Linked DNA regions of Homo sapiens. Changing the gene in region 3 together with the main gene of any one other region gives a genetic interaction. Each region holds a gene or a part of one and is shown on either strand. Other genes may lie near its edges. The genes, in order: MAP2K3, PDCL, ATG7, LONP1, DNM1L, ACTR2 and NOL6.

Region 1 (4,231 bases), on a different chromosome or scaffold from region 3:
GCTGAGCGCTCAGTTTGGGGATTGGGAGGCAAGGCCTAGCCATGGGGGCTTACCTGGGGCGGGTGTTCACGCCTCACTCTTCCCTCCTGCAGCCTGAGAGGATCAACCCAGAGCTGAACCAGAAGGGCTACAATGTCAAGTCCGACGTCTGGAGCCTGGGCATCACCATGGTACTGTGGGGGGCCAGGGCCTGCCCTTGGTGGTCAGGTGGGGTGGGTGGAGCCGTGCCTGGGGCCCTGAGCTTTTGGGGGACTCATCAAATAGTTTAGGTTCTGGAAAGAAGTATTGGCTTCAAAATCTGAGAAGAAAATGTGCCATCAGAAATTACCATCTATTTAAGGGAACCTCCTAGGGTCAGGGTCACTCATCGTGAAGTCCTGGGTGCTTTGTGATATGGTGGCCACAGGGCTTTCTCTGGAGTTCTTGGTGCTTGTTGAGAAATCACAGCCAATCCCAAATTACGTAAGTTCCTGGTATGTAAATCATGCAAAAGCAAGATGGTAAAGATCTTTTCAAAAATATTTCATAGCAGAAGGTTTGTTGTCGGTGGCGTCCTGGTACATTGCGGTGGGGTGGTAGAAAGGGTGGGCGGGCTCTCAATCCTGGGCCTGTGGAAGCCAAAGGCATCCCTGGCTTGGGTAGGGTGAGGGCAGATGTGGCAGAAGTCCGAAGTCCAGGTGTAGGGATGGGCCCAGAGCAGTTGCTTCTGGAGTTGCCTGGCAGAACCCCATGCCTTCCGTGTTGGGGCTCAGGTCAAGGTGTGGGTGAGCCCGCTCTGGCTCCCCTGTGGACAGTGGATTGGAGGGATGGGAAGACCACCAGGATGTGTCCCCCAGCCAGGGCTAGGAAGCTGTGCAGGAGACGCGTGGAAGGACGATGCCATCAGCAGGTCGGGCTCAGGCTGGTGGCCTTGGCCAGTTGAGTGGCTTGGGACCAATGGAGTGTCCTGGGCGTCAGCTCCTTCCCTGCCCAGGGAAGCCTGGCCCAGGACATTCCTGCTTGTCCCTAGTCCCTTTGACTGTTTGGTGTTGGGGATGAGGCCGTCAGATAGAATCAGTAAGATGTGGTGAGAAGCGCTGGCGGGGTGTTTTCCAACACCGCAACCCATTCTCGGATTCTCCAGACACCCACCCAGTGCCCTGCAGTTCCGTTCGGTTCTGATGCTACCTGGAGTTCGCACAGACCCCACAGGTTAAGGGCTCTGTCCCACCAGACTGCCCCCAACATCACACACCAGTTGGAAGTAGCGGGTCTCCCATACTACTGGACTGACCAGCTACAAATTGGGGGTCCCCATGACCCTCTCGTAAGGTTTGATAATTTCCTAGAATGGCTCACAAAACTCAGGGAAACACTTTATTTGTGTTTACTGGTTTATCAGAAAGGATATAACTCAGGGCCAACCAGATGGAAGAGACTCACGGGGGAGGGGTGTGAGTGTGGGGTGCAGAGCTGCCGTGCCCTCTCAGGGCCTGGCACCCTCCTGGTACCTCCCTGTGCTTGCGAACCTACAGGCTTCTCAAGCTCATGGAATTTTGTTGTTTTTGACACAGAGTCTCACTTTGTCACCCAGGCTGGAATGCAGTGGCACAATCTTAGCTCACCGTAACCTCTGCCTCCTGGGTTCAAGCGATTCTTGTGCCTCAGCCTCCCGAGTAGCTGGGATTACAGGCACCACCATGCCCAGCTGATTTTTGTATTTTTAGTGGAGATGGGGTTTTGCCATGTTGGCGAGGCTGGTCTTGAACTCCTGACCTCAAGTGATCTGCCCGCCTCAGACTCGCAAAGTGCTGTGATTACAGGCATGAGCCACCACGCCCAGCCTCACATGGAGAGGTTTTTTGTGAGAGAGGGTCTCACTCTGTTGCTCAGGCTGGAGTGCAGTGGTATCATCGCAGCTCACTGCAGCCTTGAACTCCCAGGCTCAAGCCATCCCCCTACCTCAGTCTCCTGAGTAGCTGGAACTACAGGTGTGTGCCCCTATGCCCAGCTACTTTTTTAATGTTTTGTAGAAAAGGGGTCTCACTATGTTGCCCAGGCTGGTCTTGAAATCCTGGGCTCAAGCAATCTGCCTACCTCGGCCTCCCAAAGTGCTGGGATTATAGGCACAAGCTACTGCACCCACTGAAAGTTTTTATAGAGCACAGTCTCCAGGCCCCCCTCCTCTCAGCATCAGTTGGCGGGTGATGCTGAGAGTTCCCACCCTCTATAATCAGCTGGGTTTTCTGGGGAGCAGCCCCATCTGAGGCTGTCTAGGGGCCTTACCCTGAGTCACCTCATTAGCATAAACTCAGGCTCCTTGTGGATAACAAAGCCACTCCTGTCACTCAGGAAATTCCAAGGGTTTTAGGAGCTCCATGCCAGGAACAAAGACCAAATAAATTCCTTTTTATGCCACGGGGGTGGAGAAGACTGGAGCAGGTAGGGGTGGCTCTGGGGACAGGTGGAAGGCCACTGTTGCAGATGCGGAGGCCTCTGCAAGGAGGGCACCCTGCTGACCTGAGGGCAGGGTAGACCAGGGGGTGCAAGTGCAAAGGCCCTGAGGTGGGGCTGTGCCTGCTGTGTGCCTGGGTGGCTGGGTCAGAGGAGAGGGAGGGAGGGTTGGGAGCGAGCGAAGAGAAGTGTCTGGTGGGTAGAGAGTTGACGCAGGTGTTGTGGGTTTTACTGGTGTTGCTGCTACCATTGTTATCATCATCATGTGGTTATAACTTTATTTATTTTTAATTTTTATTTTTTTGAGATGGAGTCTCACTCTGTTGCCCAGGCTGGAGTGCAATGGGACGATCTCGGCTTACTGCAACCTCCGCCTCCTAGGTTCAAGTGATTCTCCTGTCTCAGCCTCCTGAGTAACTGGGATTACAGGCTCGTGCCACCATGCCCGGCTATCTTTTTTTTTTTTTTTTTTTTTTTTTTTTGAGACGGAGTTGCACTCTGTTGCCTAGCCTGGAGTGCAATGGCATGATCTCAGCTCACTGCAACCTCTGCCTCTCGCGTTCAGGCAATTCTCCTGTCTCAGCCTCCCCAGTAGCTGGGATTATAGGCGTGAGCCACCACACCTGGCAAATTTTTGTATTTTTAAAAAAGACGGGGTTTCACCATGTTGGCCAGGCTGGTCTCAAACTCCTGACCTCAGGTGATCTGCCTGCCTCTGCCTCCCAAAGTGCTAGGATTACAGGGGTGAGCCACTGTGCCTGGCCTTTTTTTTTTTTGAGGGAGTCTCACTCTGTCGACCAGGCTAGAATGCAATGGCACAATCTCAGTTCACTGCAACCTCCGCCTCCCAGGTTCAAGCAATTCTCTTGCCTCAGCCTCTCAAGTAGCTAGGATTACAGGCATTTGCCACCATGCCCGGCTAATTTTTGTATTTTTAGTAGAGACGGGGTTTTGCCATGTTGGCCAGGCTGGTCTCAAACTCCTGACCTCAGGTGATCCACCTGCCTCAGCCTCCCAAAGTGTTGGGATTACAGGCGTGAACCACCACGCCCAGCCTTGAGCCACTGCGCCTGGCCTGTGGCTGTAACTTTATAAATAGTGTATCTGTAGACAGTGACTGGGAAAGACTCAAAGTCGAAATAATTTTGTCAGAGAGGTGGGACTGGGCCATACCTTCAATTTTCTTTAATTGGTGACATGTAATTTTTCAATTAAAATTTTTTTTTTTTGAGGTGGAGAGGAATATTCAGGCTGAAGGCAGGTGCTGTATCTGCAATAACAGTTTTCCAAGTCCTAAGTTTGATGCAAAGGACAAGTTCTTGCTGTATTTAGACTGCACAGAACTGGTTGGATATTAGAGACCCTGCTCATGACTACCTCACACATACACACACCCTATGTCCCTTCCCCATCTCCCTGTCTCCCTTCCAGTTGTCCATCCATCATGATTGTTGGGGCCACCATGGCTAGTGGCCTTCTGATATGGCTGGTGGAACTTGGACAAGTGTGTGCTAAGTGTATATTTCAGTTATCAAATATTGCATAGCAAACCACCCTAGAACCTAGTGACCCAAACCAACAGCGGTTTCTTATTTCTCATGTTTCCACCACTGTGGCTGGGCTCAGCTGGATGGCTCTTCTGCTGTACCTGGGATTGGCTGGGGTCATGGCTGGGCTGGGCTGGTCTGGAAGGCCCAAGACGGCCTCACAAACATGGGCCTCCTCTGCCTGGCCTCTCCATGCAACTTACTCACATTGGCCTGCTCCCTGGGCTTCAGAGCATGGCAGTGTCAGCAGA
Region 2 (4,231 bases), on a different chromosome or scaffold from region 3:
CCATAACCTGCTTTCGAGACTTAGCACGATTATAAGTATTTCCTCATGTTTCCAAATATTTTTATGAAATTATATATAATGTGTCACTTTGCTTAATCACTTCCCTAATTCTGCCAGACAGTTTCCAATTCTGTTCTATTGCAGATAAATCAGCAGGACGGGAACAGCCTCTCACAAGACTGATCCATGTGATGATATGATGTTGCCTCATTCTGGCCTCTCACCTCAGTATCAGGAAGCAGCTGTGAGCAGCAGGCACAATGCCCAAGAGACAGCTTAAGCTACGAAAGCATCTTACCCCTGCCCCGGTGCAGCAAGACATCCTCGCTCCTCTCATAAAACCTAACTCTGCCTAATGTTGCATAGATTAGGGAACAGGGAGTGGGAGATCACACTAGATCAGAACACGTTGTTACTTTATCATAACCAGCAACATTCTGAGTTCACTATTTTACTTATTGCCAATTTTCCTCCCATCTTGCAGCCCTCCACTTCAACTCAGTCTACCAGAGTGGCTTCTTCTGACCTATTGAAGTCTTTGGCTAAGTGTAATGTCCTAAAATCAGCCTCCTGGTCAAGGTGAATGATTCCCAGCTTAATCCTCTTATCTGCTCCCTGATCCTGTGTGGTATTTTAGCTTTGGGCCATAACTAAATGATCTCAGGCACTCACAGACATTCGTCCACACTCAGAGGGCATCCAGAGAAACAGTGAATCCCTTTTAATACTGATAGGATAAGAGGCCATCACGGGCCGGGCACCACGGCTCACGCCTGTAATCCTAGCACTTTGGGAGGCTATGGTGGGAGGGTCCCTTGACCTCAGGAGTTCCGAGACCAGCCTGGGCAACATAGACCCTGTCTCTATTAAAAAAAAAAAAAAAAAGGCCATCAGGTGCCTACTTCCAAATATCTTCCAGAGTATCTGTTTGCTTATTATAATGCCTCCTTAGAATAAATTCTCATGAATAGGCTTCAGATGAAATAGCAACATCATGGAAGAAACAGGAGTATTTGGGTTAGAACCCTAGCGCCTACTAGAATTTACCAGTTGCATTGCCCTGAACAAGCCTCTAATGCCCTCTAAGCATTGCTTCCATTATCTGTAAGAAGGGGATAATACCACCACCCTAAGAGGGTTATTTCTGGCCCAAGATAAAACCTCAATAAAAGAAGGGAAACTAAAATTTACTGAGCACTTTCAATGGGCCAGACACTGTGATGGGCATATTAACAACACAGCCCTGCACGGGGAGGATACATCATTTAACCATTGAAACACCAGATTCAGAAGGGAAGAGACTCTCCCACAGTCACTAGTAGCAGAACTGAGATCCAAAGCTGGGTGGGTTTGAGTTTTGACAGGGCTCTATGATTTCTCCTGCACTGCACAACTTCTTGGAGGTCAAATCAAGCATCCTCCACCTCTTGAATCACTCACCCAGCTCTAGCAGCCACAGCAGACTCTAAGAAAAGCCTGAGTACTGCTAATTACCTTCCCACTGATCTTCTCCTGGAGGTCTTTCTGTTTCTGTTGCTCCTCCTCTTCATCCAGATGGGACCTGCAAGTCATTGACAGCTTCTTGATCAGCCTTTCCATCTCCCGGCACTGCTCCTCCCTCTGCTCTGTCTCCAACTGCTTGAAGCGGCGCCAGTCATTGATCACACCTTTTGGGCCTGAGTAGGGTGAACACGGATGTGACCAAGGAGAATGGGCAGGGAATTATGGACCAGCTGACATCTGTAGGTAGGAGTTCACATCTGCCTGAAGCTTGCTCCATCTACTGCACAATTATCATAGGGACTCTGTGTACTCTGCCACAGGGCAGAGTGGCCTATACACAATGATGTACCCTGCAACAAGGGCCAAGCTAATGCCCAACATTAGGAGATGAGTTTAAAAAATTATCATCTACCTACTCAAAGGAAAATAAAGCAACTCTTAGAGTAAAGCAGCTCTGTGTTTCCTGCCATTAAAGATATTCCAAATATATGAGGTTATTACAAAAGCAAAATTTAGAATATCACGGTACAATCCTCTAGTTTCTATTAAAAAAGACCTGTATGTATATACATAATTTATGTACATAGATATGCATACATGTTTGTATATACACTTGTGTGTTTATAGAATAAGAGCTTGCAGGATATGTAAGCTGTTAACAGTGGTTGTCTCCAGGTAGTAGGATCTAAGCAACTGGTGAGAGAGATCTTTTACTTTTTTCTTTCTGTACTTCTATATTATCTGAATTTTTTTTTTTTTTTTTGAGATTGAGTCTTGCTCTGTGGCCCAGGCTGGGGTGCAATGGCGCGATCTCGGCTCACTGCAACCTCCACCTCCCAGGTTCAAGCAATCCCCCTGCCTCAGCTTCCCGAGCAGCTGGGACTACAGGCATGCGCCACCATGCCCAGCTAATATTTGTATTTTTAGTAGAGACAGGGTTTCACCATGTTGGCCAGGATGGTCTCCAACTCCTGACCTCAGGTGATCCGCCCGCCTCGGCCTCCCAAAGTGCTATGGGATGATGGGCATGAGCCACCGCACCTGGCCTCTGAATTTTTTATAACAATTTTTTTATAACAAGATTGTAATACAACCTGTTCTGTTATTCCAGCTACCCTTAACCCGTCAAGCCCTGTGCTGCCGAAGGACTTATATGTCCTTGCACCTTGCTATGTGACTTGTGGTACCTCCTGTGGGATGAGTACATATATCCCCAGCCCATTGAGGCTGGGCTTGACTATGCGACTTGCTGGCCAATGGGATTGTGAGCAAATATGAAGTATGCCATGTCTGAGCAAAACAAAAAGTATGCCGTGTATGAGCCATTCCATGTTTCCAACAGCTCCTCTCTTGCTCTCTATGCTTCGCCATGAAAACGGTGTGTCCTAAATAGAGGGACACAGCCAAACTGAGGCTGTTATTCTTTCAGCCTAGCTCCTAGATGAAAGAACATACGAAACATAAGCAGGGCTGCCATTGACCTACAGGCTGCATGTAACGTGAATGAGAAATAAACCTTTGTTGCCATAAGCCACTAAAGCTTTGGAGTCTATTGGTTTCACAGAAAAAAAATATACAAATCTATATGAAGACAACTTTAAAATGCTCCCAAAAAATACTTGAAAGACTTGAATAAATGGAAAAGCAATACCATGTTCCTGAACAGACATACTCAACATCACAAAAGTGCCAATGATCCCTAAATTAATCTATATATTTAATGCATTCCCAATGAAAATACATGAACACACATATGTGTCCGGCTCCTAAATTTCCTTTGGAAAAAATAAAGCAAAAGTTAATTGAAGAGGGTCTAGCCTCACCAAATACTAAAATATAACACTACAATAATTAAAAACAGTATGACACAGCCCAGTAAAAGACAAATCAATGGAAGAGACCACATAGTACAGCTAAAGACCCAACATAAACAGAGAAATTCAGTACATAATAAAAGTGACATCTCAAGATAATAAAGATGGCTTATTCACTAAGCAGTACTGAAACAACTGAGTAGCAATCTAAAAAAAAATTAAACTGGAGCCCTACTGCACCCTGCATCAAAGTGAATTCCACATGAATCAATATTTAAGTGTAAAAAATGAAATCACAAAAATACTAATGAAAAGTATAGGAGAATCTTTTTTTTTTTTTGGAGACAGAGTCTCACTCTGTTGCCCAGGCTGGAGTACAGTGGCATGATCTTGGCTCACTGCAACCTCTGCCTCCGGGGTTCAAGCAATTCTCCTTCCTCAGCCTCCCGAGTAGTTGGGCCTACAGCCGCATGCCCCCACACCTGGCTAACTTTTTGTATTTTAGTAGAGACGGGATTTCACTGTGTTGCCCAGGCTGGTCTCGAACTCCTGAGCTCAGGCAGTCCACCCGCCTCAACCTCCCAAAGTGCTAGGATTACAGGCGTGAGCCACTGTGCTCAGCCAGGAGAACCTTTTTATACAGCAAAGTGAGGCCCTTTATAAAGTAGGGTGAAGAAACGCCTTTTAAGTAAAATGCAAAATTAAGAAACTATAAAATACTTTTAAGTACATAAAAATAAAATTTTTCATCCAGGAAAAGAACAAAAGAATATAAAGTCAAAAGACAACAACAAACTGAAAGAAATATTTACCACTCATATCACAGATTAATTTCCTTTATAGCTCCCCAAGAAGAAAAAAAACACCTAATTTTTTAAATGAGCAAAGGATATAAAAATCTCTCTTAAAATTAT
Region 3 (4,231 bases):
GGGATTAGTTGCCATAGTACTTTAAAAACATGGGCACATGCATTTTGACACTGGGCCCCTTCTATAAAGAGACTGTTTTGCCCTCTGGCCTCAGCACTGAGAAAACTACAACTGCAGTAATTTAACATAAAGGACTTAAAGAAGGAAACCAGTGCAGGGGCATGACTGAAAATTTAATTAAGGCCCTTCTCAATATAAAGTCTGTAAAGGAGATGAGGGCACATCTCAAGGTCAGAAGAAGGCGGGAGACTTGGGAAAGATTCAAATGAGATACGACAGCATAAATAGCAGAGGTAGGCTCTGGAGATCAGCTTCCTTATGATAGATGGTTATTACCGCGTCTTTTGGGTCCTACGTGAAATGTCTCTGTAGAAAAGATTAACACATGCATGTCAAAAAAAAATGCCACCTTGTGTGTGGGGGACAGAGGGGGGCACATTTTCATAGTGTTTTGTGGTTTTCAAGGCCGTGTCAGATGTAATCCTGGACACAAAGTAAAGCACCTGCTTTTCTTGATTTGGAAACTGAGACTCTGGGAGGCTAAGTGAACTCTACAAGTTCTATTTTTTTTTTTTTTTTTTTTGAGATGGAGTCTCACTCTGTCGCCCAGGCCACAGTGCAATGGCGCGATCTTAGCTCACTGCAACCCTCCACCTCCCGGGTTCAAGCGATTCTCCTGCCTCAGCCTCCTGAGTAGCTGGGATTACAGGTGCACACTATCACGCTCAGCTAATTTTTGTATTTTTAGTAGAGACGGGGTTTCACCATGTTGGTCAGGCTGGTCTCAAACTCCTCTCCTCGTGATCCACCCGCCTCGGCCTCCCAAAGTGCTGGAATTACAGGCATGAGTCACCGCGCCCGGCCCACAAGTTCTATTATGGGTGGTTTTGTGCAAGGGGGCTGGGGTACCAACAGGAAGCAAAATCTCCCAACATGCAGGCCACGGATCTTTCAACTCACAAGACCTTTGAAAGAACATTTGTCAGACTGCCAAGTTTAGGTATGGATTGTGGCTCATCCACTAAGTCTCTGTGACCATGAAGAAGTCGTTTCCCCTCTTCTGATTCTCATCCTAAACTGAATATGACAGTGCCGCCCTAGCTGGCAGAAGGTGGGTGGCGAGGAGGAAGAGAGAGACAAGCATGAGCTGAGTCACTCTGCTCTCTGCACTCGTCTGAGTCTGTCCTTGCAAATCACCAGATAGGACTGGTGGGCACCATCACGATTTCACTGATGGGAACAGCAGTCACATTACAGGAGAGGATACATACATGGAATCTAAAAAAAAATGATTTCCAAATAAGACTGGAAAACCTCTTCAATCTCCCAAAAATATAGTAATGAAAATGACTGAAGAGGCAACATGAATTCTAAAAGATCATCCCACTGCCTTTTTCTTTTTACTCCCTAAGGGATGGAACTTCCTCATGATGCTTTGGATTCTTTTTCTGAAAAGACACCCCACTTTTTGGTGACCCTGCATGCTTCTAATGTTTTTCTCATGCCTGCCTATAAAGGTTTTCTATTTGGGTTCAGAGTCAATAATAATAACAAGCAACAGTAAAGAAACAGCAGGCATTGTTTGTTGAGGGCCTATGATATACACTGTTGCTGAGCCCTTTCTAGCAACCATCCATAATCCATACAACTACCAGGTGATGTCAGCATTACCTTCTCTATGTTACAGATAAGAAAACTAAGCCTCAGAGAAGTTTAGTGACTTGGCCAAAGAAGGCCATCTTTATAACGGCAGGGCTGGGATTTAAACCATTGTATGACTGATTCCAAAGCCTGTTTTTTCTGTTCCTATTGCATTATGAGGCCTCTAGTCAGTTTACAAAACGCATCAAAGACTCTGGGCAATGCTTCTCGTTCGTGATTTCCTCCCATCACTATCCCGCAGAATGGAATACCTTCCAGGTGGTCAGAAAGCTCTCCCATTGAAATCCCAGCTGCAGGGTAAGTAGGGTGGATATGAAGTGGGCTGGGCAGATGGAATGGCAAAGAGACCCCACATGCTTTCCCCCTGTACCAAAAGAATTGTGATTTCACTTCCACATCACTAACCTGGTGAGGCACAAGCCCAAGAGAGGTTGGAGGCTCATTCATCCGATCGTCACTGCTGCTGGCAATGGCATAGCCCCTGAGGACAGGAAACAATCAGAGCTGCTCATTTAATCCAAGTTTAACACATGGGAGGATGATCTAGCAGAAATCTACATAAGATTCATAAGGATAACTAAAATGCCCCTTGCTGGGCAGTGTAAGTTAGCAAAAAACTAATTTCCCTGGGACAAAGGGCAAGAAGAGTAATTTAAACATGCATGGTTTGGAGTCAGAAAGACCTGAGCTTGTGACCATAGGCAAGTTGCTTAACTTTTCTGTGCTTCAGATCCATCATCTATAAAGTAGGAATGAGGGAGCTCTGATTAATAAATGAGGAATCTACTACATCAACTGCCGAGTGCAATGTTCGGCATATCAGAGGCCAATAAACATTAACTCACTTACTATGAAATAGTCTTGTCAAACATCACAGCACATTTCTGTACTGAAAATTTGAAGTGGAAAATTTTCTAACCTTAACTTCTTGAGCTGATATAAATGCTAATGAAATGGAAGAAATAAAAGTGAAGAATGAATTGGGCAGAACTAATACACTACTCTCTGAACAATGGAGTGATACTTGTGGCACCAAAAAGATGTGACACAGGACCTGGTGTTTAAACTATGACCAGGGCAAATGTGGCAGACAGAGGCTCAGTGTCAAGGAAGCATAAAGTCAGCTCTCAAAGATTTTATCCCAAATACTTCCTGTCAGAGAGTGGCAATAAACTTAAATGACAGATAGCTAAGGTGGATGACAAAGAGGAAGACAAAAAAGCCCCGCTTTTCATTTATCTCAGAGTACCCATACTAGTTACATATACAACCACAATTTTCAACTGCTGAGGAAAGCTTTGAGTCACACAAGAAATAGAATATTCATGTTAATTTGCATATTGACTTTCTGAGAACTGGAAAAATAAATCTTTCAAAAATTCGATTTTCTGCTGCCTGTATTGCAAACAGCATAACAAAGTCATTAAACATAGTCTGGAGCCACACTGGTTGAGCTAAACCCTGGCTTTTCCATTTACTATGTAAATTTGGCCACTTACTTATCCTCACTATGCCTTGATTTCCCCATCAAAACTGCGACTAATAATAATAGTTCTTTCCTAATATGTTTGCTATGAAGATTAAAGGAGGCCGGGTGCAATGGCTCACGCCTGTAATCCCAACACTTTGGGAGGATAAGGTGGGTGAATCACTTCTGATCACTGAGGTCAGAGGTTCAAGACTAGCCTGACCAACATGGCAAAACCCCATCTCTACTAAAAATACAAAAATCAGCCGGGCATGGTGGCGTATGCCTGTAATTCCAGCTACTTGGGAGGCTGAGGCAGGAGAATCACTTGAACCTAGAAGGCAGAGGTTGCAGTGAGCCAAAATCGTGCCATTACACTCCAGCCTGGGCAACAAGAGCGAAATTCCGTCTCGTTAAAAAAAAAAAAAAAGATTGAAGGAGGCAAAATTTCTAAGGTGCTTAGAACAGTGCCTAGCACAAAGTAAGCCCTATATAAGCGTTGGAAAAATAAAATAAACCATAGTGACTTTGTCCGGAAAGATGCAGAAATGTGGCCACAAAGGAAACATGCCAAGTTATCTCAGCCCAAAGAACCAGACCTGCTTTTTCTAGTCTTGTTTTTTTGAGGGTGAAATAGTGAAATTCTCTGTAAAGTCAGACTGAGAAAAGGCCATGGGAGACACTGATGAACAACTGCCTACAAAAGCTTTGTTTAAATACTCATCTCCTACTAGCAAACTCACCCTTCTGGATGCTGCAAAACAGATACCATCAATTCCACGGCCAGGGCTCCTGCAATCACGGCCAGTCCTGGACGACTCACAGTGCACTGCTGGTCCAAGGTCCGGTCTCTGGTTGACTGCAAAGAAACAATCATTGGTGTGTGCAGAACGTTCTACTCCATTCAACTCTAGCTGTCTCAAGTATGAAATCCTCTGTGACAAAGCTTTAAATTATAACCAGATGCTCATTGTTGGCAAAGAACATCCAGCCTCAAGTACATCATTTCTTGAGATTATCAAGATAAACAAAATATACAATTTAGGTAACTAAATGAGGTGATATGCTAAAAAGGATCAGTAGCCTAAACAGATTGGGGGA
Region 4 (4,231 bases), on a different chromosome or scaffold from region 3:
GTCTCTACTAAAAAATACACAAAAAATTAGCCGGGTGTGGTGGCGGGCACCTGTAGTCCCAGCTACTGGGGAGGCTGAGGCAGGAGAATGGTGTGAACCCGGGAGGTGGAGCTTGCGGTGAGCCGAGATCACGCCACTGCACTCCAGCCTGGGCGACAGAGGCTCCATCTCAAAAAAAAAAAAAAAAAAAAAAAAAAAGAACAAGTTCGCTGCCCCTAAGGGGTCTTGCCAGTTCTAATCACATTTGTAAGTTTGGTCGCTGTCTTCCCCCTGTTGCAAGATTCTCACAGGGAATGCCCCAATGCTGAGCTGCCCAGGACAGTGTAGCCGCTGGTGGCTGTCTGAATTTTTTTTTTTTTTTTTTGAGACAGAGTTTTGCTCTTGTTGCCCAGGCTGGAATGCAATAGTGCAATCTCGGCTCACCGCAACCTCTGCCTCCCAGGTTCAAGCAATTCTCCCGCCTCAGTAATCCCGAGTAGCTGGGATTACAGGCATAAGCCACCACACCTGGCTAATTTTTTTTTGTATTTTTAGTAGACACGGGGTTTCTCCATGTTGGTCAGGCTGGTCTCAAACTCCTGACCTCAGGTGATCCGCCCACCTCGGCCTCCCAAAGTGCTGGGATTACAGGCGTGAGCCCACCGTGCCCGGCCTGAATTTTTTTATTTTAATTTTTAGATACAGGGTCTCACTCTGTTGCCCAGGCTGGAGTGCAGTGATGCGATCACAGCTCACTGCAGCCTCAATCTCCTGGGCTCAAGCGATCCTCCCACAGGTTAGACCACTGGTGTGTGCGACCATGCCCAGGGATTTTATTTTTTTTGTGGAGACAGGGGTCTCAATATTGCCCAGGCTGGTTTTGAACTCCAGGGCTCAAGTGATCCTCCTTCCTTGGCCTCCAAAAGTGTTGGGATGACAGGCATGAGACACTGTACCCAGCCAATAAAATGTTCCATTCTGTTCCTTGGCCACAGCAGCTCTACTTCAAGTGCTCAATACTCACAGGTGGCCGGGCACAGTGGCTCACGACTATAATCCCAGCATTTTGGGAGGCTGAGGTGGGCGGATCACCCGAGGTCAGGAGTTTGAGACTAGCCCGGCCAACATGGTAAAACCTCGTCTCTACTAAAAATACAAAAATTAGCCGTGTGTGGTGGCACGTGCCTGCAATCCCAGTTACTTGGGAGGCTGAGGCATGAGAATCACTTGAACCTGGGAGGTGGAAATTGCAGTGAGCTGAGATCGTTCCATTGCACTCCAGCCTGGGTTGACAGAGCCAGACTCTGTCTCAAAAAAAGAAAGAAAAAAAAAAACCTCGCAGGGGTAGTGGGGCAGGATAGAAGTGCTGACCTCAAGAACCCAGGTGGGCCTGTGGACAGGACTTTCCACCCCTGCCAGCGCCCACAGCAGACATCACCAGTTGCTCACAGCACTTCCCCCTAGGCCCTGCAGCAGCCTGGGGAAGAGGCTGATGACACCAGGCACACAGGTAAGGAGCTGACACGCTTCAGGCCTTTGGTTAGCTTCGCTGACTGTCCCTACAGCGGGAGGGCAGGTGGCACCGCCAAGAGCCTGCCCACCTCGGAAGCTGACTCCTTGTGCCACCAGGCAGGCAGGACGGCCTAGGTTGGGGGATCAGGGTGGCCAACAGGCTGTTTCCTGTCCTGCAACCACTGGTACCAACCTCCCAGGCTTGGTGGGAAGAAGCCAGGGCTGGAAGGTGTCTTGGTAACCGCTGGAGGCTTTGGCACAGGGGACACGGGCTGGGGCTGGACCTGGGTTCCAACCCTGTCTCCTTCCTGAGCAGCTACAGGCTCCAGCGAATTTCCTGTGCCTCTCCCATCCCAGAGTCTTCCGAAGACCTCTGGGAGGAAAAGCACCCTCTATGTTCCATTAGAATTGAGTTCCAGACAGGCCAGACCCTTCCTAAGGGGCTCAGGGTGGGAGATGACTCTTCGGAGAGGCCGCAGGAACGGCTCAAGGGAGCCCGTGGGGGAGGCAGCTGTGGCCGCCCTGCGTGACGCACGGACTCACTTTCACCTCCTCCGTGACCTGGAAGTCCTCGTGGACAACGTTCTCTACCTCCACCATGAGCACCTCAGCCGGGAGCTCAGGGGTGGGCTCCATCGCCAGCTCCGCCGGGTGCCTGGCGCTCAGCTCGTCCTCCGCCTCCTTCTTGCCCCGCTTTGACTTCCTGCGGGGCTTGTGCTTGTTCTCCGCCTCCGGCTCCTCGGGCTCCACCTCCAGCTGTCTGCTGATATGGACTCTGACACGGGAGCAAGGCAGGTGTGAATCAGCCGCTGAGGCTGGGAGCTGGACCCGGCTGAGGCCTCCCTGGTGGCACAGGTGGTCCAAGGGTCCCGCTGAGCCCAGACCTCTGGAGCCACAGGGTGGCTACAGGGTCCTCAAGCTGGAGACGTGAGCCGCTTTCTCGGGGCCTCCCAACCAGTGTCCCCTCCACCCCTTAGACTCCAGCCAGATTCAGGCATTCCCTGCATCCCACGCCAATGCATCACTGTCCCCATCCTAAGTATCGTGGATAAGCTGCAGTGACAAGCCCCAGGGCCTCCTGTCGAAAACGGTGTCAGCCTGGCCGGGCACAGGCTGGTCTCCAAGACTCTGTGCCCTGGACTCAGCTCATAGCAGCTCCTTCCTGTTGTTCAGGTCTCGATTTCAAGGACACCATCGCAAAGACTGTCCCCAAGCACTTCACAAAAGCTACCCACCTCCACCTCTCACGCTGTCTGCGTCTCCCCTCAGAGCACCTGGCACCACCTGAACTCAGGGTCTCGCTCTGTTGCCCAGGCTGGAGTGCAGTGGTGTGATCATAGCTCACTGCAGCCTTTACCTCCTGGGCTCAAGCAATCCTCCTGCCTCAGCCTCCCAAGTAGCTGGGACTACAGGAACACGCCGTCACATCTAACTTTTTATTATTTTTTATAGAAACAGGGTCTTGCTGTGTTGCCCAGGCTGGTCTCAAACTCCTGGGCTTAAGCGATCCTCCCACCTCAGCCTCTTGCGTAGCTGTGACCACAGGCATGAGCCACCACATCCAGCTAATTTTTCTACATTTTTTGCAGAGATGGGATCTCGCTACGTTGCCCAGGCTGGACTCAAACTCCGGGCTCAAGCGATCCAATTGCCTTGACATCCCAAAGTGCTGGAATTCCAGGCAGGAGTCACCATGCCTGGCCCTGCAGCTCACCCCTTTCTGAGACAGGAGGGGTCCAGAGGTGACATGTCTCACTCTCACCCCCAGCTCTGGCCTCAGTGCTAGTGAGAAAGCCGCTGGGCTGACGGACAGGGCAGAGGCTGATGCTGGGGCATAAGGCATCCTGGCTGGTCTCCCGCGTGGTACTCTGCCCCCACCTCCCACTGTCCCCCGCCAGCCACCCACCTTCTGTGTCCCATGACGATCATGCGCAGCTTGTCCCCAAGGTCCTGCATCTCATGGATCTGGGCAAACGTCCCCGTGTGGTAGATTTCATCCAGGCTCTCGACCACATCCGACTCATTGCTGTGGGAGAAGAGCACAGAGGAATGTTGGAACATGGCTTTCATGCTAGGCAGGATGTCTCTGGCTGAGATGGAGGAGGGAGAGAAAAGAAACGCCCCTACCAAATGCTACTGAAAACCAAGAGCGGCCTCCTTGGCTCCCGCAGGAGCTCCAGAGCCTAGGGGAGCTTCTGCCAGGCCAGGGCTGCCCCAGTGGTCACAGGACCGGGTGGGTGGCTCCTCGCTAAGTCAGCCACAAAGACATGGTCCAGGTGGGACTTTGATGAGTCTCTTCTATGCTATCACAGAGCCTGCTTCGAATGCATGCATGGAACTCTTTTTTTCTTGAGATGGAGTTTCGCTCTTGTTGCCCAGGCTGGAGAGCAATGGTGTAATCTCAGCTCACTGCAACCTCCACTTACTAGGTTCAACCGATTCTCCTTCCTCAGCCTCCTGAGTAGCTGGGATTACAGGTACCTGCCACCACGCCTGGCTAATGTTTTGTATTTTTAGTAAAGACGAGGTTTCATCATGTCAGCCAGACTGCTTTGGAACTCCTGACCTCAGGTGATCCACATGCCTCAGCCTCCCAAAGTGCTGGGATTACAGGTGTGCGACCCCACGCCCGGCCCATGGAACTCATTTCTACATGGAGCCACATCTCCGAGCAGCTAGCTCGACTTTCAGGTAGCCTCATGGAGCATTTCATCACTAAGAGTCCCTGAAGTTAATTTCC
Region 5 (4,231 bases), on a different chromosome or scaffold from region 3:
ATATCTACATAATCTAGTATTATTCACACAAAAGATATGTCACTTAATGACACGGATATGCTTTGAGAAATGCATTATTAGGTGATTTCATTACATGCACAGCACAGAGTGTACTTACACAAACGTAGATGGTATAGCCTATGACACGCCTAAGCTATATGGGATAGCCTATTGCTCCAGGCTGCAAACATGTACAGCATGTTACTGTACTGAATAGGGAACTGTAACACAATAGTATTTGTGTATCTAAACATAGGAAATGTACAGCAAAAACATGGTATCATAATCTAACGGGAACACATTCAAATACGTGGTCTGTTGACTAAAATGTTATGTGGTGCGTGACTATACTGATTCATACTACAGTATGGATGAGGCTTAAAAACATTAAGTGAGCCGGGTGCAGTGGCTCACGCCTATAATCCCAGCACTTTGGGAGGCCAAGACAGGTAGATCACCTGACGTCAGGAGTTCGAGACCAGCCTGGCCAACATGGTGAAACCCGTCTCTACTAAAAATACAAAAATTAGCTGGGCATGGTGGTGCACACCTGTTATCCCAGCTACTCAGGAGGCTGAGGCAGGAGAATCGCTTGAACCCAGAAGGCAGAGGTTGAAGTGGGCCAAGACTGCGCCACTGCACCCCAGCCTGGGCGACAAAGCGAGACTCCATCTCAAAAACACCTTCTGCAGAGGATGGGGGCAAGGAAGGAAACAAATGGAATTTTTTTCTTCAGGCCCACAGTGTAAAACACTAGGAACTGTTATTTCTACTACAAGCTACGGGTTTAAAAAGTCTACAAGCAAAAAAGATAAATGGTTCTACAGACAAAAATCATTTATTTCAATATGAAGTATTAGACTGTTTATTACTCTGTGCAGTAAAATTCATCTTAGCTGCTGACAGATTACCAAAAACTGGATGCAGAATATTTTCTAATAGATCACTTCACACAACTAAATGTATATTCTCCCTATTACTGCATGAAATGACATACCAGGCAACATGAAGGAGAAGATGCAGTAGGGACTAGACACATGAAAAAACATTCTGAACGAGAAAAAATACACATATTTCCTAGTAAAAGACATTCGTTTTGATACTTTGGAAAACCAAGTTAAATTAAAAAGGCAAGTCAGTGTTACTAGCCAAAATAATTAATGAAACTACTAAATTAAAATTTAGGAAAAAGATTTTCTTAAATGACTCAAAATGTGGCAGCCAGATAGAACAAAAGAATCTCTCATTTTTAATAGCTTTTTCTAGCTGATACATGAGGTCCTAGTCATTCTATGTTAACAAAATGGGTCTTGCTACAAGTTACCCAAGGACTATCAGAAAATCCACTTGATGATTTAGAATAAAAACCTAAAATTGTAAAAATACATGTATTTTTCAAAACAGATCACAGAATCATCCAGAAGTATTAAAGTCCGTCATTTATATTAAGTAATACTAACCTGTCTTGAATATTCTTTCTGACAATGAGAAAATATGATTTAATGAGTCGTTCAATAACCTCACAATCTCGCTGTTCCCGAGCAGATAGTTTTCGTGCAACAGGAACTGGCTAAATAGGGATGAGGGGGAAAAAATATTACTTTTGTGACACTAAAATGGCAGCTTTAACATCTGAAAGTTATGTAAGTTTTTGAGACTTTTAGTTCTTTCTGTCTAATCGTTTTCCTACTAACTTGGTCACCTACCTTATTACCTAAACCAAATTGTCATGGCTTACCACATCTAGCAGGTTCACGGCATGACCTTTTTGTGGACTGGCTGGCATAATTGGAATGGGTTTTGATTTTTCTTCTGCTAATAACTCTTCAGCTTTTGAAGTTTTCAGCATTCCTCTCCAGTTGCCTGTGGTTGGTTCTTGAACACCATCTCCAACCCCACCACCTCCAGATGCAACCTGAAAAAACATGTTCCAAAACATACCAACCACATCATATCTGACCTTAACTAAAACAAAGTTCATTTTATTTGACAGTAGTCAATATACATCCAGTACCCATCTGAAGTTTATTCAGACAGATAATGAGGTCAGAAGGAGACACTAGGTAGCATGTATAACTGGAACCCTGACCTATCTAAATAATAAAGAAGTTCTGCTCTAAGTTGTTTGCAAGGCATCAACCAACTTATGTTCTATTTAATTCCTTTTTTCTTTATCATTCGCTAACTTTTCAAAATCGTTCCTCTTCTCCCACCCTTCAAACACTAAATTGTAGGAAAAGTATATGCTGCCCTTAAAAACAAAACTACTCGTTAAAAGCACAAAGAACTGCTATTCAGTTTAATTTCTTAAGTAATCATTAACACTGTTAAACTCTAAAAGTTCCATGAACTTACGTCTCTGAACTTAAGAGTTTATATGTTTCTCAATTTACATTTCTAATAGTCAACAAAAATGCCATAAGGTATAAGTAAGAACTCTTTAACAAAAAGCAAGACTACATTTGCTATTCTTAGGCTGACAGTCACTGTGAGTTGTTTCAAATGCGGAATGTGACAAACAACAGAAGTCCCCTCAACCTCTGTACTCTTAAGGATTTGCTGAAAGAAATCTAGTGCTACCATTAATCACAAGTGCTTTTGTACCTTGTTTTCTAGAAAATGTATTAGTCTTGACTTCTAAAAGTCAAAAATGACTTTATAATGGAAAAACAATTCATCAACATTTAAGAGGGTTTTTTTTAGGTATTCTTTAAGATCTTACAATCTAAAAATGGATTATATAAGTTTAATAGAGGATTATGGCAGTTAGAAAAATGGTAGTTTGAGGTATCATTCTGAATCAAAATATTTGCTAAAATCTGTCTTTAGTATGTCAGTTAAGGTGAACTACATTTAAATATAAGTAGTATATTTATGTTACACATTAACTTAAAAATGAGTAATTAGATTTTTAAATGTTTGTTAACTATACATGAATGACATACCAAATGAAATCTTAAGGAGAGAGAGCACATTCAGTGTGACGTCATGAATGAAATAAAACTTGTGCAGTGATTTAGATGGTTTGATTAATATCTGAGCACAGTGGGCTGAGAGAAGATAAGACATTTATAAACCTTTATTTGAAGTTCAGAACTTTAAATCTGGATAATTAAGGAAAGGAGCTAAATGGCAGAAAATCTTGAAATAGCGATGAGTCTGAATAATTTATACATTATTTAATTTTCCTCTAAAATGGTTATCAAGAATTGAAAACAGTCTCAAACTCTCACAGTCCCCATTTGTTTTTTTAATTTGCTTAAGCTTCTGAAGCATATGTGAAGCTATATATAGGGTAACAAGTGCAAACTAACTGGAAGCATAAGAAAGAAGCATTAGATCTATTAGTACTGAACAGATCTCAAGATCTTTAAAGAGGAAAGGAAATGTCCAAAAATACAATTCCATCTCTGAAATCTAGGAAATCTCTGAATTTCCTACCAAAATACTAAATTTAAAACTATTCTTGAAGGTAACAAAACAGTGAGAAAGCCTATTATTGTTACTAATTAAAACAACGTTTAATGCCATCTTCCACAGGTTAGATAAAAGGAACATTAAGAACATAACACAGACAAGAGATAGATACCACTACACAAACAGGTTCTTTAATGGTGGTATAGACAGTGTTTCAGTGAGAACCAAAGGTACCAACATTTCCATTCTGAAGCAAGAGACTCACATTTTTAGTTTCTCTTCTGCTGTCCTGAATTAACTGTTAAAAGATATGTTAAAACATGCAATTTAACAAGCAAAATTTAAATACCAATGGGTTGAAATTCAAAAAGTGCAGGATAATTTCCTCTTTAAATTACTTTTTCTGTGTGCATCTTCTATATTGCAAGCAAAAGCATGTCAACAATATAAACTATGCATTGCATTGTTATATAATTTTAAAATATATATTAGACTAAAGTGATCTGACCTTAGCACAGTATCCCATATTAATATTCTTCTATTCAGTGTATTGTTTCCAGAAGATTATGTTGTACCAGAGAACAAGGCATGCAGGCTTAGATTAAGAATCAGAACAGACCTTGCCATCAGCCTCAGCAGAAGCAGCGGGGGAGGGCTCCTGGGAGGCAGGTGCCAAAGCACTTGGAACTTTAGAAGACTAAAGGCAAAAAATCCAGGGGGGAAAAAAAATCAAGGATGCAAAAATGCATTCAGGAACATTCTATAAATGAATTTTTCCCTTCTGTAATGAAATCGTAAAATAACATGAAAGATG
Region 6 (4,231 bases), on a different chromosome or scaffold from region 3:
GCTGGCTAATTTTATTTTTTGTAGAGACGGGGGTCTTGCTTTGTTACTCAGACTGGTCTTGAACTCCTGGGCTCAAATGATCCTCCCATCTTGGCCTCCCAAATTGCTGGGATTATGGGGAAGAGCCACCGCGCCTGGCCAATTACAATGATTGTTTAGATTCCAGCTTTGGTCCCAGCTACCTAGGAGGCTGAGGTGGGAGGATCACCTAACCCTGGGAGATTGAGACTGAAGTGAGCCGAGATCATGCCACTGCACTGCAGCCTGAGCAACAGAGTGAGGAAACCCTGTCTCAAAACAGAAAGAAAAAAAAAAGGTTACCAAAACTTATACCCTTAAAAAAACCACCTCCACCTTCAGGTGGGTTCACATGAAATCACCCAAAATATCTGGAAAAACTTCACACAGCAGATCTTATTAGCAAAACCTCCTGCCTTAAGCACTTGAAGCCTGATAGTGTGGCTTCTCTCCATTCTCTGGCTGCTGGCCAGCATGGGGTCAAGTTTTCTAATCACCTTAATGAACTGTTAAAACTGCAGGCATCCCATTTCTTTGCACCAAATCTTATCCTGTTCTGTATTTGTCCACCCATGTCCCTCCTCACTTATTCATCAGCTTATTACTTTATACTTGTGTATATGTGTGTGTGTGCATATATATATCAAATATATATATGGATTTTGTTTTGTTTTTGAGACAGGGTCTCGCTCCTTCACCCAGGCTGGAGTGCAGTGGTGCAATCCTAGCTCTCTGCCTCAAAACTTGAGCCTTGAACTCCTGGGCTCAAGCAATCTTCCCACCTCAACCTCTCAACTAGCTAGGACTACAGGCACGTGCCACTACGCCTGGCAAATTTTTGTATTTTTTTTGTAGAGACAGGGTCTCATTATATTGCCCAGGCTGGCCATGAACTCCTGGCCTCAAGTGATCCTCGTATCTCAGCCTCCCAAAGTGCTGGGATTACCGGTGTGAGCCACTACACCCAGCCTATTTGTATATATTTTTGTAGCCTACCTCAAATTCTTTGAGAAAAGAGAGAAGGAAGAAATAAAACATGTTTTACATTCCTAGTTTGCTTATCTTTTGCCCTGTGCCAGCCACTTTCTTCCAAAATAGTCAGGTAGATGGAAAATCAGACAACTAGAGAAACTGTCAAGAAGACTTCAGGAAGGAATCTCCAGAGCAAATCTGGAGATGATTAAGTTACAAAATGGGTTTACTCCTAGAAGAAAACCTAGCCAATACCATTCAGGACATAGGCATGGGCAAAGACTTCATGACTAAAACACCAAAAGCAATTGCAACAAAAGCCAAAATTGACAAATGGGTTCTAATTAAACTAAAGAGCTTCTTGCATAGCAAAAGAAACTATCATCAGAGTGAACAGGCAACCTACAGAATGGGAAAAAATTTTTGCAATCTATCCATCTGACAAAGCCTTAATAACCAGAATCTACAAGGAACTTAAACAAATTTACCAGAAAAAGACAAATAACCCCATGAAAAAGTGGGCAAAGGATACGAACAGACACTTTTCAAAAGAAGACATTTATGTGGCCAATAAACATAAGAAAAAAAGCTCATCATCGCTGGTCATTAGAGAAATACAAATCAAAACCACAAAATCTCATGCCAGTTAGAATGGCGATCCTTAAAAAGTCAGGAAACAACAGATGCTGGAGAGGATATGGAGAAATAGGAACGCTTTTACACTGTTGGTGGGAGTGTAAATTAGTTCAACCATTGTGGAAGACAATGTGGTGATTCCTCAAGGATCTAGAACTAGAAATACCATTTGACCCAGCGATCCCATTACTGGGTATATACCCAAAGGATTATAAATCATGCTACTATAAAGACACATGCACACATATGTTTACTGCAGCACTATTCACAATAGCAAAGACTTGGAACCAACCCAAATGCCCATCAACGTTAGACTGGATAAAGAAAATGTGGCACATATACACCATGGAATACTATGCAGCCATAAAAAAATGAATGAGTTCATGTCCTTTACAGGGGCATGGGTGAAGCTGGAAACCATCATTCTCAGCAAATTAACACAGGAACAGAAAACCAAACACCAAATGTTCTCATTCATAAGTGGGAGCTGACAATGAGAACATATGGGCACAGGGAGGGGAACAACACACATGGGGCCTGTTGGGTGGGGGGCGGCAAGGGGAGGGAGGTATAGCATTAGGAGAAATATCTAATGCAGATGACAGGTTGATGGGTGCAGCAAACCACCATGGCACATGTGTACCTATGTAACAAACCTGCATTTTCTGCACATGTATCCCAGAACTTAAAGTATAATAAAAAATAAATTTAAAAAAATTTTAAATGGGGGTTTACTGAATATTTGGATCACTATCTTAACTTTTTTTTTTTTTTTTTTTTTACCGACATGGAGTCTTGCTCTGTCACCCAGGCTGGAGTGCAGTGGCACGATCTCAGCTCACTGCAACCTCTGCCTCCTGGGTTGAAGCAATTCTCCTGCCTCAGCCTCCTGAATAGCTGGGACTACAGGTGCCCACCACCTTGCCCAGCTAATTTTTTGTATTTTCAGTAAAGACGGGTTTCACCATGTTGGCCAGGCTGTTCTCCAACTCCTGACTTCAGGTGATCCGCCTGCCTCGGCCTCCCAAAGTGCTGGGATTACAGGCGTGAGCCACCGCGCCCGGCCAACAACAAATTTTTTATAATTACTTTAAAAATGACTATTTTGCATATATTTGTGAATATGTAGAGCTAGTATGCATCATATGGTTTTAAAATACTTGCCTTCATTGCCTATTACTGTTTCATTTTAGTAATAACTAGATCAAAGATGAGACCTGGAAGTACTTTATACTCAGACAAATTTAATAGGCTTAAGATGGTAATTCATTAAAAATTCAAGTAGGATCAACTCCTCTGGTGTTATAAACTATAACCAGGTACTAAATCTCATTAGTTACAATTTCAAGTTAACATTTAACACCTCATTAAAGAATATTAAGTCAGGAAAGGCTGCCACCTACTGAATTAGTAAAGCAATGCTCTAGAATGACCATTTCCAAAGTATGTTTCTTAGATCACTAATCCCATGAAATTCTGAAAAGTCCTAGAGCATAAGTCTGAAAAACACGCATACTATATTAATTGTGCCCATATTAGCATACCAAAGGCTCTGAGTTCTACAGTGAAGTGAAATCAACTCTTTCTCAAACTCATCTGACAATGTAATCCTTTTTAATTTTTGTGAAATGCTTATTAGCATCTCAGGGAAATAAAGTTCTGTAAAACATACATTGAGAAATGCTATGCCAAATACTAGAATCTCAAAATAACATCTCGCATCTAATTATATCCTAGTATAGAGAGTAATTTATGATTCTTGCCTTAATTTGCATTATATGGTGCCCTAAAATAATTAAATAGAAACTTAATGTAGAAAGAGACATTAAAAGTCACACATATACATATTACAACAACCCAAGACAAAAATACTGATTCTAAGAAAACCTCCTTAAGCTGACACCAATAATCATGGCTGTCCACTTTAAAACACATATATATTATACACTGGAAACACTTACTGTATAAGATTCAACTAATACTGTGGTTTCTAAGGCCAGTTTCTGCTCTTGCTCAATATTATATCCCACGTAACACAGTTTTTCTTTAATCATGCGAACCGTTTCAAAATCAGCAGAGTGGTTGAAGGCGTATCCTCGCAACAGAAGTAGCTGGTACAAAACAATAGCAATAAGTTCATAATACATCTGAATGAGTTCTACTCTGCAAAAGCTAGTAATGCTCATTAAATATGTCACATCAATAACAAACAGAATGGGCAGTGGATCCTCAGCTCCTACTATTTCAGAAGCAGGATTTTATCCGCCATAAAAGGATTTATATTTCAGTTTCAGAGAGGGTAAAAGAATTAACAATTCATAAGTAAGTCAGTAAAATGACTAGAAAAGTCAGTTTTTGAAAAGCACTGCATGAGTACTAATGTTTTGATAGTTTTGATAAACAATCAAAAGTATATTAATGAATAAATATTATTTTAGTACTGGACTCCTGTAGCCTGCAGTTTGCTCACACAATTAATGCCATATTTATGAAATGCCCCCAAGTCTTTAAAAGTTTTATCTTTAGCTTCTAGTACTGTGTCTGGCACATATTAGAAGGACAATAGCATTTGTTTAACGAATGATAAGGGAATTATTGGGATACT
Region 7 (3,803 bases), on a different chromosome or scaffold from region 3:
GAGATCCGCAGTGGCTTCCTGGCAGCTCGGGCACAGCTCCCCGTCATGGTCATTGTTACCCCCCAAGACCGCAAAAACTCTGTGTGGACACAGGATGGACCCTCAGCCCAGGTTCAACCCCATACCTGCCCCCTAATGTGTGGTTTTCTTCCCAAGGAAAAAGCAGGCCCAGCCTGACCTGGGAGAGACCCACTTCAGTTCCAGTCTGATGTGTCTGTACCCCGCAGATCCTGCAGCAGCTTGTGGTCCTGGCAGCTGAAGCCCTGCCCATGTTAGAGAAGCAGCTCATGGATCCCCGGGGACCTGGGGACATCAGGGTAAGCTTCTGACCAGCAGTGACTCCAGGGCCTCTGGGGATTCTGTCTTTGGAAGTTCAGCGTTCAGGGATCTCACAGGAGACCCGGTCCCCTTGTTTGGTGAGACTGAACAGAGGAGGTGTTGAAGCTGCTGTGGTGCCTGGGGTGGCAGAGCCTGGGGAACCTGGGTTCCATCTGGGTCTCCTGTTTCTAGCCTGTGCTCCTTCTGCCGGGCTATGCAACAGCTGTTTGCTCTGTGGGTCTTGGTGCTTCAGTCTTCAAATGGGCAGGTGGGCCCATAGAGGGTGGTCAGATGGAAGGAGGAAACCAAGGTGGGCGTGTGGAGAGGTTTGTGGTCCAGTTCCTCAGTCAAGGGGGTCCTGCTGACCCCTCCTTCTCCCCTTCCTTAGACAGTGTTCCGGCCGCCCTTGGACATTTACGACGTGCTGATTCGCCTGTCTCCTCGCCATATCCCGCGGCACCGCCAGGCTGTGGACTCGCCAGCTGCCTCCTTCTGCCGGGGCCTGCTCAGCCAGCCGGGGCCCTCATCCCTGATGCCCGTGCTGGGCTATGATCCTCCTCAGCTCTATCTGACGCAGCTCAGGGTTGGTCCTAAACAGCTGAATGACCTGGGGAGGGGACTTCCAGGTGAAGCTGAGGCTGTGGAGGAGCTCTTAAATGCCTGCCTATAATCTTCTCTGTTCTGTCCCTTTCTAGGAGGCCTTTGGGGATCTGGCCCTTTTCTTCTATGACCAGCATGGTGGAGAGGTGATTGGTGTCCTCTGGAAGCCCACCAGCTTCCAGCCGCAGCCCTTCAAGGTGTGCTGGCTGGTGACAGCTGTGTTCCTGAGTGTGTGCACGTGGTTCTGTGTGGGCATGCATGTCTGTGTGTAGTCTGTCCTATGGGCAAACCCGTGTCAGGTGCGGAGTGTATGGGCTTGTGTTTCTATCCCCACCACCCCCACTCTGTACCCAGCTTGGTGTCTCTGGGTGTGCCGCTGTGACACTCAACCCACATCTCTTCTCTGATTTCCCCAGGCCTCCAGCACAAAGGGGCGCATGGTGATGTCTCGAGGTGGGGAGCTAGTAATGGTGCCCAATGTTGAAGCAATCCTGGAGGACTTTGCTGTGCTGGGTGAAGGCCTGGTGCAGACTGTGGAGGCCCGAAGTGAGAGGTGGACTGTGTGATCCCAGCTCTGGAGCAAGCTGTAGACGGACAGCAGGACATTGGACCTCTAGAGCAAGATGTCAGTAGGATGACCTCCACCCTCCTTGGACATGAATCCTCCATGGAGGGCCTGCTGGCTGAACATGCTGAATCATCTCCAACAAAACCCAGCCCCAACTTTCTCTCTGATGCTCCAGCATTGGGGCAGGGGCATGGTGGCCCATGTAGTCTCCTGGGCCTCACCATCCCAGAAGAGGAGTGGGAGCCAGCTCAGAGAAGGAACTGAACCCAGGAGATCCATCCACCTATTAGCCCTGGGCCTGGACCTCCCTGCGATTTCCCACTCCTTTCTTAGTCTTCTTCCAGAAACAGAGAAGGGGATGTGTGCCTGGGAGAGGCTCTGTCTCCTTCCTGCTGCCAGGACCTGTGCCTAGACTTAGCATGCCCTTCACTGCAGTGTCAGGCCTTTAGATGGGACCCAGCGAAAATGTGGCCCTTCTGAGTCACATCACCGACACTGAGCAGTGGAAAGGGGCTATATGTGTATGAATAGACCACATTGAAGGAGCACAATGCCCTCCTGTGTTGATGCCACTTCCCAGGGTGGAGACAGTGGAAAAGAACCGAGGACAGGAAAGGATTGGGTAGGTGAAGGGGTCAGGGGACTGGTAGTCACCCAATCTTGGAGAGGTGCAAAAAGCACTGGGGGCTACCCGTTAGCTGCATCTGCCCTGGCTGTTTGCCCGTTCATGTCACAAACTGCCACTACTATGTACCTGCAGTGGGGTTGCAGAGATGGGGGAGACTCAAGTCTTACTCCCCAGGAGCTCCCAGGGCCCAAGGAGGAGAATGCTGCCTCCTTTCAGTCTGGTCTACACCCACTTTCTGGTAGCCTCTCTGCTTCCTGTAATTCTGGCTGTTTTTCCAGACTCAGCTCAAATAGTGCCCCTCCTTAAGCCCATCCCTCGCCCCCAGCCTGAGGTGATCTTTCCCTCCTCTGAACTATTAGAGCAGTTACTGTCTGTTCAGTTCGTTTGGCAGGCACACACAGTGGCATAAATTCTATTGTTTTGAACTCTGATTTAAAATTAAATTGCAGCTGGGCGTGGTGGCTTATGCTTGTAATCCCAACACTTAGGGAGTCAGGAGAATCACTTGAGCTCAGGAGTTCTAGACCAATCTGGGCAACAGAGAGACCCCATCTCTTTTAAATAAAAAGTTAAATTGCTTAATTTCCCCCGTATTCCTGGCCTGTCTGCCCCTTTCACATAATTTTAACCTGGTTTCTTGTATGTAAACTCCTTGAGGGCAAGAACATGTTTGAACATAGACTTCTTCGTGTCCTTCCTAGCACCTATTACAGTGCTTTGCTCAGGGGCCATCCAGCACAGGCAGATGGGGGGCAGAGAAGCCCACTGGAAGATTGCAGAGTAAAGGGAATCCATTTGTGAAATCTGCCTGCAAGAAGTGGGTGGTGACGGTGAAAGAGAAAGCCTAAGAGATTATAGAGTTGACGTTTATTGAGGGCTTAATAGGTGCCAGGCGGGGTTAGGTGGTGGTATCCGTATCTTATGTGCGGAAACTTGTCGTACAGTCATAACGAGCCGTATGGAGTAGGTACTTTCATTTACCTTCATTTTCTGAGTGAGAGAACAGGCTCAGCGCAGGGGCCCGTTGTGTGAGGAACTTTGATGCCTGGCTAGCAAGCTCCATCCTCAAGATGAGAAGCTGCATGTGGGAACTCTGGCCTCCAGTTCTGTCTCAACTGTTGGTCTTTGTGAATCACTGCTTGCCTCTACTGTCACTGCCATGGAGCAGCTCAGCCCAGGGTTGAAATTAGAATAGGGAGGGAATAAATTGGCTGGCTGTGTGAGCTGGAGTCCACATCTCTCCCTCTGCTATTCATTCTTGAGCTTCAAGCATCAACGTGCCAGGCTTTATTTTCCAGGAGTGAAATGTAATCCCATCCCTTGTGGAGCCCCGTGGTCCATGGTCACCCTTGGCTCTTCCTCTTGCCTCCCTTGGTCCCTTGGACTATTTGTCCACAGTCACTCCATGGGCTCCTGGGAGGGCCAGGGTTGCTGGAAGCCTAGCAGGAATCCTTATGTGTGAGCAAGTGTACACAGGATAATGGTTAAGCATCCTCATGGATGTGCCTGCCTTGGCGGGTCTCTGCCTTTAACTTTGCAAGTGTGGCAGATCACCTGTTTCATCTCCAGGTCAGTTGTCTGTAGCTTCAGGCCCTTCACAAACCCAGCTCTTGATTATCCCCATGGGGGAGGGGGTGGAATCTGCCCCCAGGCAGGACTGTAGCAGGTGGCTCTAAGAGGTGCAGTTAC

What was found.
Region 1: of ATG7 (region 3) and MAP2K3, changing one enhances a phenotype caused by changing the other (phenotypic enhancement), as found in Homo sapiens cells (one large-scale study listed by BioGRID).
Region 2: of ATG7 (region 3) and PDCL, changing one enhances a phenotype caused by changing the other (phenotypic enhancement), as found in Homo sapiens cells (one large-scale study listed by BioGRID).
Region 4: of ATG7 (region 3) and LONP1, changing one suppresses a phenotype caused by changing the other (phenotypic suppression), as found in Homo sapiens cells (one large-scale study listed by BioGRID).
Region 5: of ATG7 (region 3) and DNM1L, changing one suppresses a phenotype caused by changing the other (phenotypic suppression), as found in Homo sapiens cells (one large-scale study listed by BioGRID).
Region 6: of ATG7 (region 3) and ACTR2, changing one enhances a phenotype caused by changing the other (phenotypic enhancement), as found in Homo sapiens cells (one large-scale study listed by BioGRID).
Region 7: of ATG7 (region 3) and NOL6, changing one suppresses a phenotype caused by changing the other (phenotypic suppression), as found in Homo sapiens cells (one large-scale study listed by BioGRID).

Annotation. Positions count from the first base shown.
Region 1 is NC_000017.11:21,304,959-21,309,189, forward strand, and holds part of MAP2K3 (dual specificity mitogen-activated protein kinase kinase 3), read left to right. Parts: intron 1-92; coding exon 93-170; intron 171-4,231. UniProt on the Homo sapiens protein: Dual specificity kinase. Is activated by cytokines and environmental stress in vivo. Catalyzes the concomitant phosphorylation of a threonine and a tyrosine residue in the MAP kinase p38.
Region 2 is NC_000009.12:122,821,522-122,825,752, forward strand, and holds part of PDCL (phosducin-like protein), read right to left. Parts: intron 1,677-4,231; coding exon 1,495-1,676; intron 1-1,494. UniProt on the Homo sapiens protein: Acts as a positive regulator of hedgehog signaling and regulates ciliary function.
Region 3 is NC_000003.12:11,362,571-11,366,801, reverse strand, and holds part of ATG7 (ubiquitin-like modifier-activating enzyme ATG7), read right to left. Parts: intron 3,990-4,231; coding exon 3,874-3,989; intron 2,144-3,873; coding exon 2,068-2,143; intron 1-2,067. UniProt on the Homo sapiens protein: E1-like activating enzyme involved in the 2 ubiquitin-like systems required for cytoplasm to vacuole transport (Cvt) and autophagy.
Region 4 is NC_000019.10:5,709,737-5,713,967, forward strand, and holds part of LONP1 (lon protease homolog, mitochondrial isoform 1 precursor), read right to left. Parts: intron 3,518-4,231; coding exon 3,398-3,517; intron 2,267-3,397; coding exon 2,035-2,266; intron 1-2,034. UniProt on the Homo sapiens protein: ATP-dependent serine protease that mediates the selective degradation of misfolded, unassembled or oxidatively damaged polypeptides as well as certain short-lived regulatory proteins in the mitochondrial matrix.
Region 5 is NC_000012.12:32,737,748-32,741,978, reverse strand, and holds part of DNM1L (dynamin-1-like protein), read right to left. Parts: intron 4,115-4,231; coding exon 4,037-4,114; intron 3,716-4,036; coding exon 3,683-3,715; intron 1,916-3,682; coding exon 1,739-1,915; intron 1,571-1,738; coding exon 1,461-1,570; intron 1-1,460. UniProt on the Homo sapiens protein: Functions in mitochondrial and peroxisomal division.
Region 6 is NC_000002.12:65,255,051-65,259,281, reverse strand, and holds part of ACTR2 (actin-related protein 2), read right to left. Parts: intron 3,738-4,231; coding exon 3,588-3,737; intron 1-3,587. UniProt on the Homo sapiens protein: ATP-binding component of the Arp2/3 complex, a multiprotein complex that mediates actin polymerization upon stimulation by nucleation-promoting factor (NPF).
Region 7 is NC_000009.12:33,460,345-33,464,147, reverse strand, and holds the end of NOL6 (nucleolar protein 6), read left to right. Parts: coding exon 1-111; intron 112-227; coding exon 228-317; intron 318-706; coding exon 707-901; intron 902-1,013; coding exon 1,014-1,115; intron 1,116-1,334; coding exon 1,335-1,484; 3' UTR 1,485-2,795; downstream 2,796-3,803. UniProt on the Homo sapiens protein: Part of the small subunit (SSU) processome, first precursor of the small eukaryotic ribosomal subunit.